Homo sapiens: one gene and its partner. The protein of the gene in region 1 interacts with the protein of each later gene in a pairwise test. Each region holds a gene or a part of one and is shown in the gene's direction. Other genes may lie near its edges.

Evidence for each region. Proteins that work in one complex are often made in the same cells at the same time.
Region 2: the proteins of LSAMP (region 1) and ELK3 interact in binary tests that used the Homo sapiens proteins (3 or more experiments, as listed by UniProt).

Annotation. Positions count from the first base shown.
Region 1 is NC_000003.12:116,084,083-116,093,515, reverse strand, and holds part of LSAMP (limbic system-associated membrane protein isoform 1 preproprotein), read left to right. Parts: intron 1-6,959; coding exon 6,960-7,192; intron 7,193-9,433.
Region 2 is NC_000012.12:96,195,982-96,204,429, forward strand, and holds part of ELK3 (ETS domain-containing protein Elk-3), read left to right. Parts: intron 1-2,044; exon of another isoform or gene 2,045-2,161; intron 2,162-8,448. UniProt on the Homo sapiens protein: May be a negative regulator of transcription, but can activate transcription when coexpressed with Ras, Src or Mos. Forms a ternary complex with the serum response factor and the ETS and SRF motifs of the Fos serum response element.

The DNA of each region.
Region 1 (9,433 bases):
ATTGCTGTGCCTTTGTCATGAACTTTGCTGCTGACAATTAAGTAGGTATAAATTAAAAAGCATAAGCCTATGAAAACACACTACTGCACTTTAGATGTTTGTCCTATGCTTCTGGATGTGTAAACCAAGAGACAGACATCTATATCTGGGTATTTCAACCTCGATCCTGTCAACATTTTGGATAAGATACATCTTTGTGATTGGGGGCTGTCCACGGCATTGTAGGATGTTTAGCAACACCCCTGGCCTCTCCCTACTAGAAACCAATAGCAACACCCCCTCCCTAGTTGTGACAACCAAAAAATGTCTCCAGATATTGTCAGTGTCATCTAGGGGCACAGATTGCCTTCACTTGGGACCACTTATCTAACTGTTCTTTCTTAAGAAACAAATAGATTTCTCTTACCCATCCAGTTACACTGCTCCCAGCCTCTGCAATGTATAAATATGAGTATAGATAACTGGTGCGGATTACATAAAATATATTTATTTGTTATCAGTGAATAAATACCAGATTATACTCTTGAGAAAAGAAGGAAATTTATGCAAGGCTAAGTCTGGACAAATTTGAATCCTAAGTTGGTATGTTTTTTAACAGCCATTAATGCTTGTTAAATATGAAATGTGTCCAGCAGCAATTGAACAGGCTTAATATTTGGTAGATATGTATCAATTACATCATAGATATCTTGTCAGTACATATGCTATTAAGTAATCTGTTGGTACAAACTGATTTTAGCATTTCTTTTCTACCTCCAGTTATATTCATTTTTTAAGCAGTATAACCCCCACTCTTGTGCAATGTTACTAGAATTGTCAATGTACCTGTTTGTATAAGTCTGCATAATAGACTTGATGTAAAGTGTTTGAAGAAATTCAATGCTTAAGATTTGTATGGGTGCATTGATTTTTTGTGACAGTTTTATGGAATCAAATATACTAAACAGGGAAGATAAAAATTTGTGTGCTTACCTTTCCTAATTTTTTTAAGAGATGATTTTTTAAAAATCATAGATTTGCAGTTCCAGTAGGTAACCCATCTAATATTTGAGGGTTCATGATTAACGTGAGCAACCTCCTAATCACTTATTTAGGATGTTATACTTTTTTTTCACAGTTTTTCACATGCAATATAGATCATTTAGTTCCTAGAGATGATATTTCTTCATAGTGGACACAGGAACACATTTTTTCTCTCCTTTACTTTCATTTTAATACCACACTCAATAATTCTCTTTAAATTTCCCTTTATACCTAATAACTTTAATTATTTCTTAAGAAATATTAAAATAGTTATCCATCTTTACTGTACCTATTAGATAATTAATGAATATTTTATAATTGACCTAATGCAATTTGTTAAATTAAATTCAGCTTGTTTATTCCACATTTCAGCAAGTATCTACTATGCACATGGTATTTATGCACATGGTATTTAGGCTCAGTGAGGGCTCCAGAGGTGAATTACAAGAAGGTCACTGTCTTAATAAGCTTATGAGAAAAGATGAGTGCAAATAACTCTAATGCAATGTGGAGTATGATAAGGTCATAAAAAGGAAGTTTTAAGAAGGTTACACTGACGAGAGAAGATTTTCTGAAGAGGTGGCACTTTATAGCATACGTCCATGTCCTCAGCTGCCTTCCATAAAACCCACCCAAAGCGGAAGGATATTCTCTGATCCTCTCCTCGTGGCACTAACACCCATTGTCATTAGGGTCCGGTTCTTTCTAAACCTGGGAATTATTTGCAACATCATGTGTTCCTCAAGACAACATTCTATTAAAACAACACATAACACTAACAGGTTTTTGAAATACATCTTTTTATCTTCCTGCTTTAGCCCAGGTTGATTCTAGAGATAAAATTGTTGCGGGAAGTCAGGGACCCCAAACGGAGGGACCGGCTGAAGCCATGACAGAAGAACGTGGATTGTGAAGATTTTATGGACATTTATTAGTTCCCCAAATTAATACTTTTGTAATTTCTTATGCCTGTCTTTACTGCAATCTCTAAACATAAATTGCGAAGAGTTCATGGACACTTCTCACTTCCCCAATCAATACCCTTGTGATTTCCTATGCCTGTCTTTACTTTAGTCTCTTAGTCCTGTCAGCCGAGAAGGATGTATGTCACCTCAGGACCCTGTAATAATTGCATTAACTGCACAAATTGTACAGCATGTGTGTTTGAGCAATATGAAATGTGGGCACCTTGAAAAAAGAACAGGATAACAGCAATTGTTCAGGGAATATGAGAGATAACCTTAAACTCTGGCCGCCGGTGAGCCGGGCAGAACAGAGCCATATTTCTCTTCTTTCAAAAGCAAATGGGAGAAATATCACTGAATTCTTTTTCTCAGCATGGAACGTCCCTGAGAAAGAGAATGCGCACCTGGGGGTAGGTCTCTGAACTGGCCCCCCAGGGGCGTACCTGTCTCTTATGGTCGAGATTGCAGAGGTGAGATAGTCTCCAGTCTCCCATAGCGCTCCCAGGCTTATTAGGAAGAGGAAATTCCCACCTAATAAATTTTGGTCAGACGGTTGATCTCAAAACCCCGTCTCCTGATAAGATGTTATCAATGACAATGGTGCCCGAAACTTCATTAGCAATTTTAATTTCACATCGGTCCTGTGGTCCTGTGATCTCGCCCTGCCTCCACTTGCCTTATGATATTCTATTACTCTGTTAAGTACTTGATGTCTGTCACCCACACCTATTCACACATTCCCTCCCCTTTTGAAAATCCCTAATAAAAACTTGCTGGTTTTTGTGGCTTGTGGGGCATCACGGATCCTACCAACGTGTGATGTCTCCCCTGGACACCCAGCTTTAAAATTTCTCTCTTTTGTACTCTGTCCTTTTATTTCTCAAGCCAGCCGACGCTTAGGAAAATAGAAAAGAACCTACGTGATTTTCCGGGGCAGGTCCCCCGAAACAAAATCATTAAGTATAAAGTTTAGAACTAAATTGCAGCAACATTCTAGGTAGGTGATAATTCATTATTATCATATTATAATGGCATGGCCCGAGAATTCTCATTTACTCCACAAGCCTGCCTAATGCACAGTTGAGCCAGCAGACCTCAGAGATGCAAGCCCATGATGCTTATTGGTGATTCAGTGAATGCTGGGAACCTGGGTCTGTATTTATATCAGCATTTCTTATTTCCAGATAGCCAGGTGGTCTGTCAGTACACTGTATGACTAGTTATTATCTCTTAATAAACGTAGACCTCTACAAATTGAAACTACTGATTCTGGTTTACTATATTTTCTTTTCTTTCTCTTTCTTTTTTTTTTTTTTTAGACAAGGTCTCACTCTGGCCAGGCTGGAGTGCAGTGATGTGATCATAGCTCACTGTAGCCTTGAACTCCTGAGTTCAAGTGATTTTCCTGCCTCCAGCCTCCCAAAGAGCTGGGATTACAGGCATGCGCCACCGTGCCTGGTCCTACCATTTTTTTTCATGTGTACTTTTTATGATTAAAAAAAATAGGTGCCACCTTAAATTAAGATTCTAAAATTAAGAAAATATTTAGTTCTGAAATTGCATTATTCCTTTACTCATTTTTTATTAAGAAAGTTTTAGTCACATTGTAGAAGGATTATTTTCCAGTTTATAGAGCTAATAGATTTATTTTGCAACTACTGAGTACATAAAAAGGAACCCTGAAAGATCTGGAGAAGTGGTTTCCTTTTTATTTTATTTTTATTTATTTATTTTTTTTCCATTGAGATATATTTATTTTAAACAAATTTCTCCTTGAAATGGTTTCCTTTTTAAAAACACTATACTGTATTGTGTTCTGGTGCTTGGAGTTTGGCTAACCATCTGAGTTAGGAAAAAGTATGTGTATTCTAGGCCGGGCACGGTGGCTCACGCCTGTAATCCCAGCACTTTGGGAGACCGAGGTGGGCGGATCACGAGGTCAGGAGATTGAGACCATCCTGGCTAACACGCTGAAACCCCGTCTCTGCTAAAAATACAAAAAATTAGGCGGGCGTGGTGGCAGGCGCCTGTAGTGCCAGCTACTCGGGAGGCAGAGGCAGGAGAATGGCGTGAACCTGGGAGGCAGAGCTTGCAGTGAGCTGAGATTGCACCACTGCACTCTAGCCTGGGCGACGGAGCGAGACTCCATCTCAAAAACAAAACAAAACAAAAAAAAGTATATGTGTATTCTAATATACTATTCACTTGTTTGTCAGTAAAAGACGAATTTTAAAAATAAATACGGATAAAACCCAGATCAAAAACAAGGTGCTATGTAAATTGTCATAACAAAATTTCCACATAATACATTGTTTCATTAGATGCACTTTTATGCATCTGGCAATTTTGCTGAAATGGTCAATTACTTCTTTAGGTAAGATAGAGCTGAACACCCTCAAAGAATAATTTGGAATAATGATCCGTATGACTTTAACTTTTCCATGAATGAAATTTGCTAAAATGTCAAAGGACCATAAAGACCCGACTTATAAACTTTACCTTATATTGTTAAGGAAATCTGTCCAATTTATTTGTGGGTGCTATAGGACTTGGGATGGGGACGTGGAATATAGGTTACCAAATGTCCTGTATCTGCATGTGTGACCCAGTTAGTTCACAGGACAGGCATTTATCAAATGCCTGTTTTATCCTAGATTAGTTATTGGTGGTATCCAAATGAATAAGGTAAAAATTTGCTGTTTTTATTGGATTCACAGGCCATATTTAGGTAAGCTATATTACGTGGTATTTTTTCTTTTAAAGTGAAGAGATTGGAGCCATATTTGGTGCTAAGAGGCATTCAGAATACATCTATAATGTAGCAAATCTGACCATTCTTGTGTTACGCTGTGCAGGTGAGAAACATGCACAGGGAAAAATGATAGAAGATTTAAAACACATTTACACAGGTAAATTTCTATCCTTCTTACTAGAATAGAAAAAACATGGTAAATCTACATTCAACAATTTCATAATGGTCTAGAGTAAGACACCAAACATCCTATTAATTAATTCATCAATGATTTTAAATTCAGAGATGCGGCAAACATCACCAAGAACAGAGAAATGATGCCACAAGAGAGGAGAACAGCAAAAGTAAAACTGAGTCTGGAATGAGGCAGCAAGCATTCATGAAGTTAGCTTGGTGCTCATGATAAAAGGCCTCTAAATTATTAAACACATAAATTATACTCAATAATATATGCATGGCAGAGAAGCACATACTGGGAAATGGAGATGTTAAATGATACCTAAATCTAGTTATGTTTATGAAAACAAATAGGTAAAGAAGAAAAGTAAGACCTGTGTATCTTGGCACCCAACTTATTAAGTCAAATTCTTACTCTAGGGTCAGGCATGGTGGCTCATGACTATAATCCCAGTGCTTAGGGAGGCCAAGTTGGGAAGATCACTTGAGGCTAGCCTGGACAACACAGCAAGACCCCATCTCTAATTTTTTTTTTAAATTAGCTAGTCCTGGTGGCATGCACCTATCATCCTAGCTACTTAGGAGGCTGAGGCAGGAGGATTGCTTGAGCTCAGTAGTTTGAGGCTGCAGTGAGCTATGATCAGGCCACTGCTCCCCAGTCTTGGTGACCGAACAAGATCTGTCTCAAAAAAAAAAAAAAAAATCTCCCTCTAAATAACATATACAATTCGTTTAAAATTAATAGGATAAGGAGGTCTTTGTATTATACCATAAATGGAGTATTTAAAAAGACTTAGCTGTTATCTTTCTTGTAAGAGACACAGTTGGCCTTTATATTCCATGTGGGACAGCCTATGGGTTATGCATCAATTTTCTGTCTATGTTTAGTTGTTTTGACCTGAGATAAAAACTGGATTTTACTTGGCTTAGAAAATACAGGGGAACAGGGTGTCTTAATAGTCCTGCTGTGGTGCTCGTGGCTCTTTCTGTTCATTCCCTCCTGCTCCAGAGTGTTGAGCAGCTGGCTTTGCAGCTGTGAACAGGGTTTGGGACATCTCCCTATGGGGCAGACATAAATCTTGCCACAGGGATGCAGACAGAAGGTTTTTTTGTTTTTGTTTTCTGCTAGATTTTTCCATTGCAAGACTCTTGCTGGAACTGAAGGAGAAAACCATACTCACCAAAAAGTATTTACCCCTCCTTCACTAATGCATGTTCTTTGCCCCTTTCAAATTTCAGAAAGAGACCCTTTTAAGTTTTTTAAAGCAGTAATTCAATTAAGCGTTATTCCTTTACCCTTTTTGATCTATTGGTCTATAAACTACAAAATTGGCTTCTTCATCTTTGTTAAAGATTGCCTGCATTTAGTGTGACTAGAAATGCTGGTAGCAACCTAACTTGCCACCAAACAAGCTTCTGCCTTCAGCAGCTGGAACCAAACTTATGCCAGATGATGTTTGCTTTGATTTCCTTGTCATAACACCTATCCCCTTATGCTTGGATCTGCTCACACAATTTTTACTCCTGGAAGTGGCATCCCAAACTTGTAAAGATTAGAAGTAAACTCAGAAGTCTAGTCTAATTCCTATAATGGTGGAGTATAACTTTAATCTATCATTACACAATACTATAGGAAATACTTATAAAAGAGTAAACACAGTTCAAGATGGAGTAAAAGTGCTATGATATCAATTGTATAATTCTCAAAATTACTTAAACAGACGGAGTTCTGAGTGAGTGGCCTTTTCCTAAACAAGAAGAAGATAATGGGAAGTCAATACTAATTTAACTTTGCCTTCATTACTCATACTCAGATTGTTTATTGCTGAACTGAGTCTAATATAATGACATCCATCCACTGGATGGTAATTAGATCTTAAATGAAATAGTGAAAATTCTAAGGACTCCAAGAATGGCATGGCAATAATTCATTCTGCATATAATTATTTTCCTTGTTTAGACTTGTTGAGTCTGATCACCTAGAGAAGAAACGCAGAAATAGTTGTTGTTAAGGCACTAATATTGTTACTCTGCTCTGTCAGGTGCGTTGTAGAAGACAAGAACTCAAAGGTGGCCTGGTTGAACCGTTCTGGCATCATTTTTGCTGGACATGACAAGTGGTCTCTGGACCCACGGGTTGAGCTGGAGAAACGCCATTCTCTGGAATACAGCCTCCGAATCCAGAAGGTGGATGTCTATGATGAGGGTTCCTACACTTGCTCAGTTCAGACACAGCATGAGCCCAAGACCTCCCAAGTTTACTTGATCGTACAAGGTAAGGAAAGTGTGGGATAGAAGGGTGGTAAGAAAGAGGTGGGAGTTGCAGAATAATAATGTACAAAATATTTGCAGAATCCTTCCTGAAAAGAAATATTCCCAAAGATATTATTGGACTTAAGTATCGATTTTCTGTCTAAAAAGACACTTAAAATGAGAGGACCCAAAACAATATAGAGAGTGTACTCCTGTTACTGAGAGCCAGTAACATTGGTGAGAATGTTTTCACCTAGCCCTGAGTGTGAAAACACACGGCAAAAGCCACAGCTGTTGGAACAATGTAAATCAGGGATACCAGAACACACAGAATGCCTAGGGCCATATGAAGTACACTTTTCCACCCTGTTAGGTACCAGATGCTTTGCTGAGTTTAAGAAAGTTTGGGTTTATCTGTCCTCACCCTGAAGATTAGCACTAATTATCTTTTTTGTGATAGCAAAGTTCTTCTGAAAAAATAAAATTTTCCAGAGGACTTTTTATTTTTTCAGCTGTTCAGGTTTCTATGTAGTTTGTATCTCTACTTAATGACAAGTTACTGGTGATGAAATCCAGTGACAAAGATCTGCAAAGTAATTGGGGACAATTTGCTTCTAGATTGGGGGATCTAAGGGCACATCTGAGTCATCGTTTTACAGGATAAAAACCTTAAATGGCACTCACATACCCCCAAACTGTTGCTCAATTGGGTTTCTTTCGCCATAATTGCAGAATGAGAACAAAGCTGATCAGCTGCACAATTTTATTGCAAGTGAAGCCCAACCACCAGCAGTTTCAATGTATCTATCAGGAAAGATCTAAGCACTAACAAACATTAGGGCTGTGTTCATGTATTCTTGATTTATAATTCTATGTAAATTTAATGCAAATTAGGCATGGCCCTAGGGCTCCTGTCAAGGTTCCAATGCAGTCAGTGGTGTGGAAAAGTTTAACTGTAGCTTCTATTAATGTGTTATGGAATTGATTATTGTAGTGTTTAAATTATTGCTCTCCCAACTCCTCTGATTAATAGATTGAAACTGGAATAAAATACATCAGAGACTGCCTGGTGCAGGGGTGCTTTAGTCGTGTGGCCTCTATTTTGGTCCATTTGCAATGGCTGACAGCTTCATTTTATTGCTTGTAAAGGCATGTCTACTAGCTTGCAAAGTTCCAATCACAGTCAAAGCATAGGATGTTTTTCTTGTAGCTTAGTAGAGCGTACTTAAGCTCCATTACAAGAAAGACACCAGGGTATGGATCTTAGGCAACCTATTTAAATTTGTAAACATAACTAGAAATATGTAAATATGCCAATGGGTTAATTTACCAACTCCCTCAAAACAAATACAAGCACACATTTATTCACAAACACACACACACACACACATCAAAACATAAGAAAAAATTCTACTAAATTCAATGGCAGAAGGAGGAGAGATAACTAGTTTACTTAGGATCACTTAGAACAGATTTTACCTACTGACCAGTTATTCAGATTATCTCGTGATTTTTCTTCTTTGATTTCTGATGTAAGATTGTTTATTCATATATTTCTTTATAATGGGTTATGCTTGAAAAAAACTGATTGATTATATTGTGATATTTCTACACAATTTTAGTAGCTTTATGGACTTTGATGTCACTAAAAAGCCACTAGAGACCGTAACTAGAAATTGTGTATTATCCTATACTGAATAAATTTGACAATCTGAGCACTATATCCCTTGGTTTCTAGATGAGCAAATAGAAGTTCATTAAATTTAGGTTACTTGCTCAAAGTCACAAGACAGTTCAGGGAATAGTTGAGTGCCAAGCAGATCTGTAAATCTAAAGCACTTTCCACTGGAATGGAGTTTTTTGGTTTTTTTTGGTTTTTTTTTTTTTTTTGCCATGATTTTAAAGACTAATTTAAGGATTCATAGTTAAGAATTTATATTTAAGTCTGAGCTCTTAGCACCAAATGCCCAATGTTCCTCTTTTTTTTTTCTTATTTACCTTTGTACTCTTAAGCTACAAACATGACCATCTCACAAGGGTTAGAACTAAAATTATGTTAGATACTGCATGTACCTTCCTGACATGGCAGTGCAAATGAAATTAAATTTAACTTAAGGGATGGAGAAGTGCCAAGTCCTGTTTATCTACTATCTCATTTAATTCTAATAATATTACTTTTAGGTAGATGTTTCTCACTTTATTTTATATATATGCAAAAGCTTGAAGTTCAGAGACAGGAAGGAGTCTGCCAAAGGCTTTCTGT
Region 2 (8,448 bases), on another chromosome or scaffold:
TGAGTTGTTTTTGGAGTTGGCTGCGGAGAGGGTTAAAGGGATTCTGCTGCTGCAGGGGGAAAAAGTTCCTTGAATTTTCCACTGGCTGCTGCAGGAAGAGAGAGCCCCCTTAGTCATTGCTAAGTAATGTCTGCACACACACCAACTAATCTCATTAGGAGTTTCCGCTGCTCGGCACAGGAGGGGTTTTGTGCAGCCACTGTCAGCCTGGGAGCCCGGCGCTGGGGAAGGAGACAAGTTATGGCTTTATTTACTTAGGGGTGCAGCCGCCCAACGAGCCTTTTCAGGACATGTCTTGAAAACTTTGAAGTCACTTTGGCCATTTTGGATTTCAGATTTGCAGGTTTTTCTTTCCCGCGTGTGTATGTGTGTTGAGAGGTGGGGGGAGATAAGCAGCTCACACACACCCATCTTCTCCATCTGTGCTTGTCTTTGGGGGTGGGGGGGGTGTGGAGCATGTTCCAGGCATCTATTCATGAGCCGAAATCGATTTGTGAGCCTTACAAAATACCCTCTGATCTCTTTTTCTTTCTCTCTCGCCATGGCACCCATTTATTTGGAAAAGGTCAGTTAGGAGTTTCAATTTATGAGGATGATAAAATTACAAATTGTGTTAGGAGGGCACATGGGTCAGGCAGTTAAGGAGACTGTCCATAAGTGTTCTTAGAGTTTCCAGTAATGATCCTGCCTAGAAACCCCCCTGAGTTTGAAAAGTGATGGCCTTTCTATGCCAAATATAGCAAAGGCCTTCTGCCCTCTAAAAGTGTTTTTTTTTTTTTTTTTTTTTAATTTAAATGTTGCGTAGAAATGTGTGGCGTTACTAAAAAGGGTCAAAAGGAACCTGATTGGAATGATGGGGCCCCTTTATTGACAAAGACATGTTGCTTTTAAGGTGTTGGCAGTTCTTTTACGGTGGCAAAGTTGTCCTAAAAACAGCCCAAACAGCCCGACCGGGGTATGAGTCAGTGGACATGAGTACAGGATGTCCCTAATGCTATGCCTTCACAGAGTAGGTGCTCAATAAATTGTAGCATTGAAAGCTGTGAGTAGGCTAACAAAACTTATAATAGGTAAGAAAAAAGACTTACGAGATCTCATACATTTTGCATGAGTGTTCCTTAAGAATGGAGGTTGTAAACTCTCTCCAGAGTACATTTCCTTTAAATAAAAAAGGGAGTATTTAGAATTCCTCCTTCTAAGTAATTATTTGGGACACATAGGTTCATTTACGTTAGTGGTTCACAACTAGGAGTAATTTTACCTCCCAGGAGACATTTGGCAATGTCTGGAGATGTTTTTGGTTGTTATAACTAAGGGGGTGCATTGGCTTCTGGAGGGTAGACGCCAGGGGTGCTGCTAACCAGTCAACAATGCACAAGAAAGAATTTTTTTTGCCCAAAATGTCTATAGTGGATTGAGAAAAATCTTATTTACTTTAATGATGATGAAGATGATGAAAGCTCTTTAACACGCATTCAGTCAACAAATAGGACATTTAAAAGTCATCATCTGTAATTTTGGCCACATACGTAACATAGCATTCATGAATTTTCTCTTTCTCTTTTTGGTCAGTAACATGCAATAATAGAGTGACATACGGATGGTGACCTTGTGATGGTGTACCCTTTATGTCCTGAATTAGGCCATCCATCTCTGAAACTCTGCAAGTATAGCATCTTCATGCACTTGGTACCAATGCTGTTGAGACCAGAATGGCAGTAGTCCAGATAGGGGAGAGCAGTGATTTGCCAGCTCCATTTGAGTTTTGAAGTTAACCTAAACATTTATTAAAGACCTCCTCTTTTTCTTATATAAAAAATTAAATAAGTCAAAAGTGCTAATATACAGTACATGTAACTCTGAGGTCATATATTAAAATTTATATTTGTAATAACTTTTTGGAACTTGAATCTTTTCCTGAAATTGGTTTTAAAGGACTTCCAGGCAGTGTATGTAAATTAAAATATTCCCTTCTTAGCTGTCAGATATTGGATTTTGTGTGTTCTGTGGGACCCAATTATATTTATATATCTATCTGATTCAGAAGACCAGTATGGTGCTGTGAAATGTTGCAAAACATGACCTGATGACAACCCAAAACACTTCATAGAAAACTATCCAAGAATGTGACTTCCTGGAGTAGAGTCTTTTTTCACTGAGGGTGAGTTGCTGCTTACTAATCGTTAGTTTTGTTGCCTTCCAATTCTAAGGAATGACTCAGTCATCTCCATGTTTCCCAGACCTGGACTTCCTCATGAAACTTTATTTTTTTAATTGTTTATGTTGCCAGGGCTGGCCTTGCACTCCTGGGCTCAAGTGATGCTCCCACCTCAGCCTCCGCAGTAGCTGGGGTTACAGGTGTGAACCTCTGTACCAGCTGTCTCATTAAAGTTTAAAAGAAATGGGCTGTCTGTCCATTCTGGCTTTGTTCTGGCTGTAGAGCCCAGATGACTGTCTTCTGACCCTTTCCTAAGGTTCTGTACATAAATACGCAGATGAGAGGGGAAGGGGACTCCATTTTTGTTAGATTTTCTTGTATGTTTCAGGCAAAAGTTTTTTATGTCCTGGTTATCTTTAATTCCTCTTTGCCTGTATAGATCGACTTATAACACACTTTGAGACCATGCTAGCAGAATAGTATCTTCTAAAGGTTGGTTGTTTTTTTTCCTATTGTAAAAAATATTAATGTGAATTGCCTTACAAAGATACAGAAAACTGCTATAAAAAAATAGACATCTCCCATAATTCCACTGTTTACCTTTTGATGTGTAATTGTTCAGTTTTTTAAAAAAATGCATATGTGTGTCTATGTATATCCACACATGCACATACCATTTTTAATTGAAAGCACACTGTACTTACTGTTTTATAACTTTTTTCACTTAACATGTAACACATTTTAATAATTAGTACCGAGACCGAAATTATCACATAGAGCTTCTATTTATTGATCTAATAAATGTGTTGGCTCAACCATGGATTGACATAATTTCTTCATAGACTTGTTCAGTGTTTTTTGTCCTCTGTGGTTCAAGTAATGTTCTAAGAATGCTGCCCTCTTGAAAGACTGAGTTCCTATGTGCTGTGAAATTTTGGATTTTGATGAGTTTCTCTGTGATTTAAGGATGAGTCATGATTTGCAGTAGAATATCAAGATGTAGTAACAGGAAGTACAGGGCACTACACATGAAAATAGAATGTTAAATGATGAAGAGAAACCAGGTTAAACTGAAAATATACCTTGAAATTATCCAACTATGAAGGGAGAGGAAGGTGTGTTTTGTACATTTTAACAACTCCTATTACTGTTTCATTTTCTATCAGTGGAGTTTCCAAACTTTGAAGTTGGTGTTTTAAATTGATTTTTAGCTCAAGATTGCTGTTGTTCATAGCCACTTTGAATTGAGGTCATTCAGCCTTTTGATTGAAACCATGGCAGTGAGACCATGAAAACTCTAGTTTTGCCACTTATAGAGCAGCCCCAGTAAATAAAATTAGCTGTGTGTGTGTGTGTGTGTGTGTGTGTGTGTGTGACCTTCTGTGAAATTCTAAATGTCTTCAAAAATGGTAGATTACTCAGTCTTTTAAATAACTATTCTGTGCAGAAATTCAACTCCCCATGGTTCCTGCCTGAAACCAAAATAAAAATTGCCTTTCATCCATTACTGGAGATTTACATATATGTCAGCAGTTTTAAAGTAAACTTTGAACTAGTCATTTCAATAAATTGTGATTTGGTTTGAATTCCCACTAGGAATAAAGTCATTGACTACTTTATTGCTATGTATTAATTTACATTTCCTGGAAAGTACTACTTTTTTCTAAGAATTAAATAAGATTATAACATGGCTTTACTTGTATATTTTTAAAGAAATTTAGACAATGTTATATTAGTGTATTCTAATTTGAATTAGACTGAAATGAATTTACTCACACACTCTAAAACAAGGATCTATTTATGACACATAGTGTCATAAATATGCTTAAAGTTTCTATAGCTAAGAACAATTTCTGAATATCCATGTGTAATATGGGAGTGATGGGATAGGTATAAAACACTTATCTAGATACCTTCTCTTTTTATTTTTTAAATTGATATAAATGTACATATTTATGGGGTACATAGTGATTTTTTACATATATATCATGTATAGTAATTAGATCGAGGTAATTAGATCCATCATCTCAAATGTTTATGATTTATTTGTGTTGGGAACATCCATTATCTTCCTTCTAGTTAATTGAAACTATATAGTATTATAGGCATCCTGCAGTGCTATAGAACACGAGAACTTACTCCTCCTGTTGGAGACCTTCTCTTAAGACTGATGAAGCTAGGGCTCCTGTACTCCAAGCAATAGAGTAAAGAAAACGAGGCTCTTGGTATCTTCCCCTCTCTCTTTTTTTTAAGTTGAGGTATGATTTACATATATTAAAATGCGCAGATCTTAAGTGTTATTGTATACATACATGTAACCCTACCCAAAGAGACAATATTTCCATGTCCCCAAGTGTTTTTTGGCTTATGTATTTAGAGACAGAGCCTGGTTCTGTCACCCAGGCTGGAGTGCACTGGCACTGTCATAGCTCAGTGCAGCCTCAAACTCCAGGGCTCAGGTGATCCTCCTGCCTCAGTCTCCCAAGCAGATAGGACTGCAGGTGTGCACCACCACACCTGGCTAATTTTTTTTTTCTTTTTGAGACAGTGTCTGGCTCTGTTGCCCAGGCTGGAGTGCAGTGGTGCAAGCTTGGCGCACTGCAACCTCCGCCTCCTGTGTCTAAGCAATTCTCATGCCTCAGCCTCCCAAGTAGCTGGTATCATAGGCATATGCCACCATGCCTGGCTAATTTTTGTATTTTTAATAGAGACGGGCTTTTGCCATATTGGCCAGGCTGGTCTCAAACTCCTGGCCTCAAGAGATCTGCCTGTCTCCACCTCCAAAGGGCTGGGATTAACAGGAGTGAGCCACCATGCCTGGCCTCTGGCTAATTTTTTTATTTTTTGTAGAAATGGGGTCTCATTATCCCTGGCCATTTACAAAATTCTGTTACGGCAATTTCATGATTCTACCATATAGATTCTTAAACTTCAGAATACCTTGATAAAATATTGTGGTATTTTATTTAATCTGCTTAGTTAAAAATAAATCAGAATGTGTAGATTTCCTCATCATACAGTAAGAGGAAAAAGAAAAATCCTTTCTGTATTACCTGATATCCGCAAAATATTTAACCAAAAGTAATATGTGTGCTTTAGGAAAAATGTATTACCTGAAGACTAATTGGGATGAGAGGATATTAGTAAATCTTCCCAGACCTCAGTTTCTTTAGCCTGATGGTAAAGTAGTTGAAGTGGAGGCTGGGTGCAGTGGCTCACATGTGTCATCCCAGCATTTTGGGAGGCTGAAGCAGGCAGATCACTTGAGCCCAGGAGTCTGAGATCAACCTGGGCAACATAGTGAGACCCCATCTCTGCCAAAAATTAGCTAGACGTGGTGGTGCGTGCCAGTAGTCCCAGCTACCCGGGAGGTCAAGGCTGCAGTGAACCATGATTGCGCCACTACACTCCAGCCTGGGTAACAGAGTGAAACCCTGTCTCAAAAAAAAAAAAAAAAAAAAAAGGGATTGAAGTGGAGAAGCTGAGATATACTCCCTTTCAAGTCGGAAGCCCTATTTGTGTACTGCTATATTTGGAGGAAAGGTCTTGACTCCTAAGAGTTGTGAAAGTGTGATATGAACTTCTTGCTGTCATCTCCAGACATCTGACTTATAGACATATGCAGGAATTTAAACAAACAGCTATTTTGTGGTGGAAAAGGGGGATCTCCATAAGTTTCCCCTTGAATTCCATTTTGGCCCCTTATTGAATAAGGAACACTCCAGTGGAAGGCCAGTATTAGCTGCCATGCTTCCTTTCCTCCTAGTCTTTTGAGGTTTGTGACAGGCAGCACTGATTTCTAATGACCCACAGCCACCTCATTCTTGGGGACATCAGTGACTGTCTGAGTTGGTGCTCTGTAGCACCAGATAAGAGTTTGGTCACCTGGTGAAATTCCTCCTCCTTCCTTCTGATAGTCTTTGAAAGTGCTGTCTGCCCCCACTGCTGTATCTTGAGGGTTCTTACATTCCTCTGCACCCGCTCTGATCCCTTCTCTCCCCAGGAGCTAGAACAATCCTTTCAAAACACAGATCTGACCAGGTCATTCTTCTACTGAAAAATCTTCTAGTGACTTCAGCTTAGGATAAAGACCAAAACCCCTAACTCAAGCTGCAAGATGTGATTTGGGCCAGCAAACTGACTTTTCCTCAGTTCCTCAAATGCTTAAGGTGTCCTCTGCCCTCTGTCCACTGGGTCTTTGTCAATACTGACAGAATTTTCCCCCCGACCCCTCTATTTTTCAGACTCCATGCCTAACCAATTTGTAGGCGTCTTTTAGTTCACACTCAGCTCCACCATGTTTTATTGGGGAAGCCTTTCCTGTCACCTAGAGTAGATCTCCCTCAGTCATCTGCTCCTGGCCTTCAGAGCCCTTACCACAAGCTTTTTTTTTTTTTTTTTTTGAGAGATGGAGTCTTAGCCTGTTGCCCAGGCTGGAGTGCAGTGGCACCATCTTGGGTCACTGCAACCTCCACCATGTGGGTTCAAGAGATTCTACTGCCTCAACCTCCCAAGTAGCTGGAATTACAGGCTTGTGCCACCACACCTTGCTAATTTTTGTGTTTTTATTAGAGACAGGGTTTCGCCATGTTGGCCAGGCTGATCTCAAACTCCTGGCCTCAACTGATCCGCCTGCCTCGGCCTCCCAAAGTGCTGGGATTACAAGTGTGAGCCACCATGCCTGGCCACCACAGGCTTTATTTACAGGTTGCCTCATTACCTGAATTCTCTCTCTCCAAATTCTTGTTACCCAAACACAGGAACATGAGATGGAGTCTCGCTCCGTCGCCCAGTCTGGAGTGCAGTGATCTCAGCTCACTGCAACCTCTGCCTCCTGGGTTCAAGTGATTCTTCTGCCTCAGCCTCCCAAGTAGCTGGGACTACAGGCATGCGCCACCCCACCTGGCTAATTTTTGTATTTTTAGTAGAGACGGGGTTTCACCATGCTGGCCAGGCTGGTCTCGAACTCCTGACCTCGTGATCCACCCGCCTCAGCTTCCCAAAGTGCTGGGATTACAGGCATGAGCCACCATACCTGGCCAGGAACTAGACAGTTTTAGAGACATCTTTCTGAAATAGGGCTGGTGCCCCTCATTATTCATTAATGCTATTTTCTCCAAAACCCGGGAACCAAATAGATGTGATAGCATGGCATCCCTCATGATCTGAAGTTACTGTCCGTAACTGCGGTCCCATTCGATTTGGATATTGGGGGATGCCTGCACGTGTCTGTGTCATGTGCTGCATGTCTGCGGTGCCATCAGTCTGTGAGCTCCCTCTGGGCCTGCGTCCGTTTTTCTCATCCTTTGTATTATCTCAGCACTTTGTACAATACCTGGCACTCAATGAATTAAAAATAATCTGAAGCGGGGGTTGGGGGGAGCTTGTCAATATAGCCCCACCTTGTTTTGCCCTTGGACTTGATAAAGCCGTTTGTTGCTATGCATATGTCCATCTCTTTTCTAGACAATGAGTTACTTGGATGAATAGGCAGATCTCTTGGTTAAACCATAAAGACAGGCTGGGCGCGGTGGCTCACATCTGTAATCCCAGCACTTTGAGAGGCCGAGGCGGGCAGATCACTTGAGGTTAGAAGTTCGATACCAGCCTGGCCAACATGGTGAAACCCAATCTCTACTAAAAATACAAAAATTAGCCGAGTGTGGTGGCGCATGCCTGTAATCCTAGCTACTTGGGAGGCTGAGGCAGGAGAATCGCTTGAACCCGGGCGGTGAAGCTTTCAGTGAGCCGAGATTGTGCCATTACACTCCAGCCTGGGCAACAGAGCGAGACTGTGTCTCAAAATGAAAACCCATAAAGACAGCCAAAAAGCTCCTCTATGCCACTTCCCATACTTCTTGTTTAGACTTGCAAGAAAAGTGGATATATAGAAATGAGGTTAGTTTGCTAGTATCCTGGAGGACAGGGTTTGGCTCTATTGTTGGTATCAGTGTTACTATACTGAGAGTGGTCGGTTAACAGTAAAGTTATTCGTGGGATAGGATATGTTGAAAGAATCTCAATGTAAAGTTTTTTTTTTTATAGAATTAATCATTGTAGAGCAACCATCATTAGTCCTTTATTAAAGACTTCAGTTGATCAGGTTTTCGTAGTTCCCTTGGATAACCAGTTTTTAATCCTGTAAGATCCACAGTTCAGGGTCCTTCTTTACTTATAGAAAACCTGTGTGTGTAGCTTCCATCTATACCTTTTTGAAATTAATGATGTTTCTGATTGAGTTTGGAAATAACAAAAGATTCTGCTTACGTGATTATGAAGACTTGATTGAC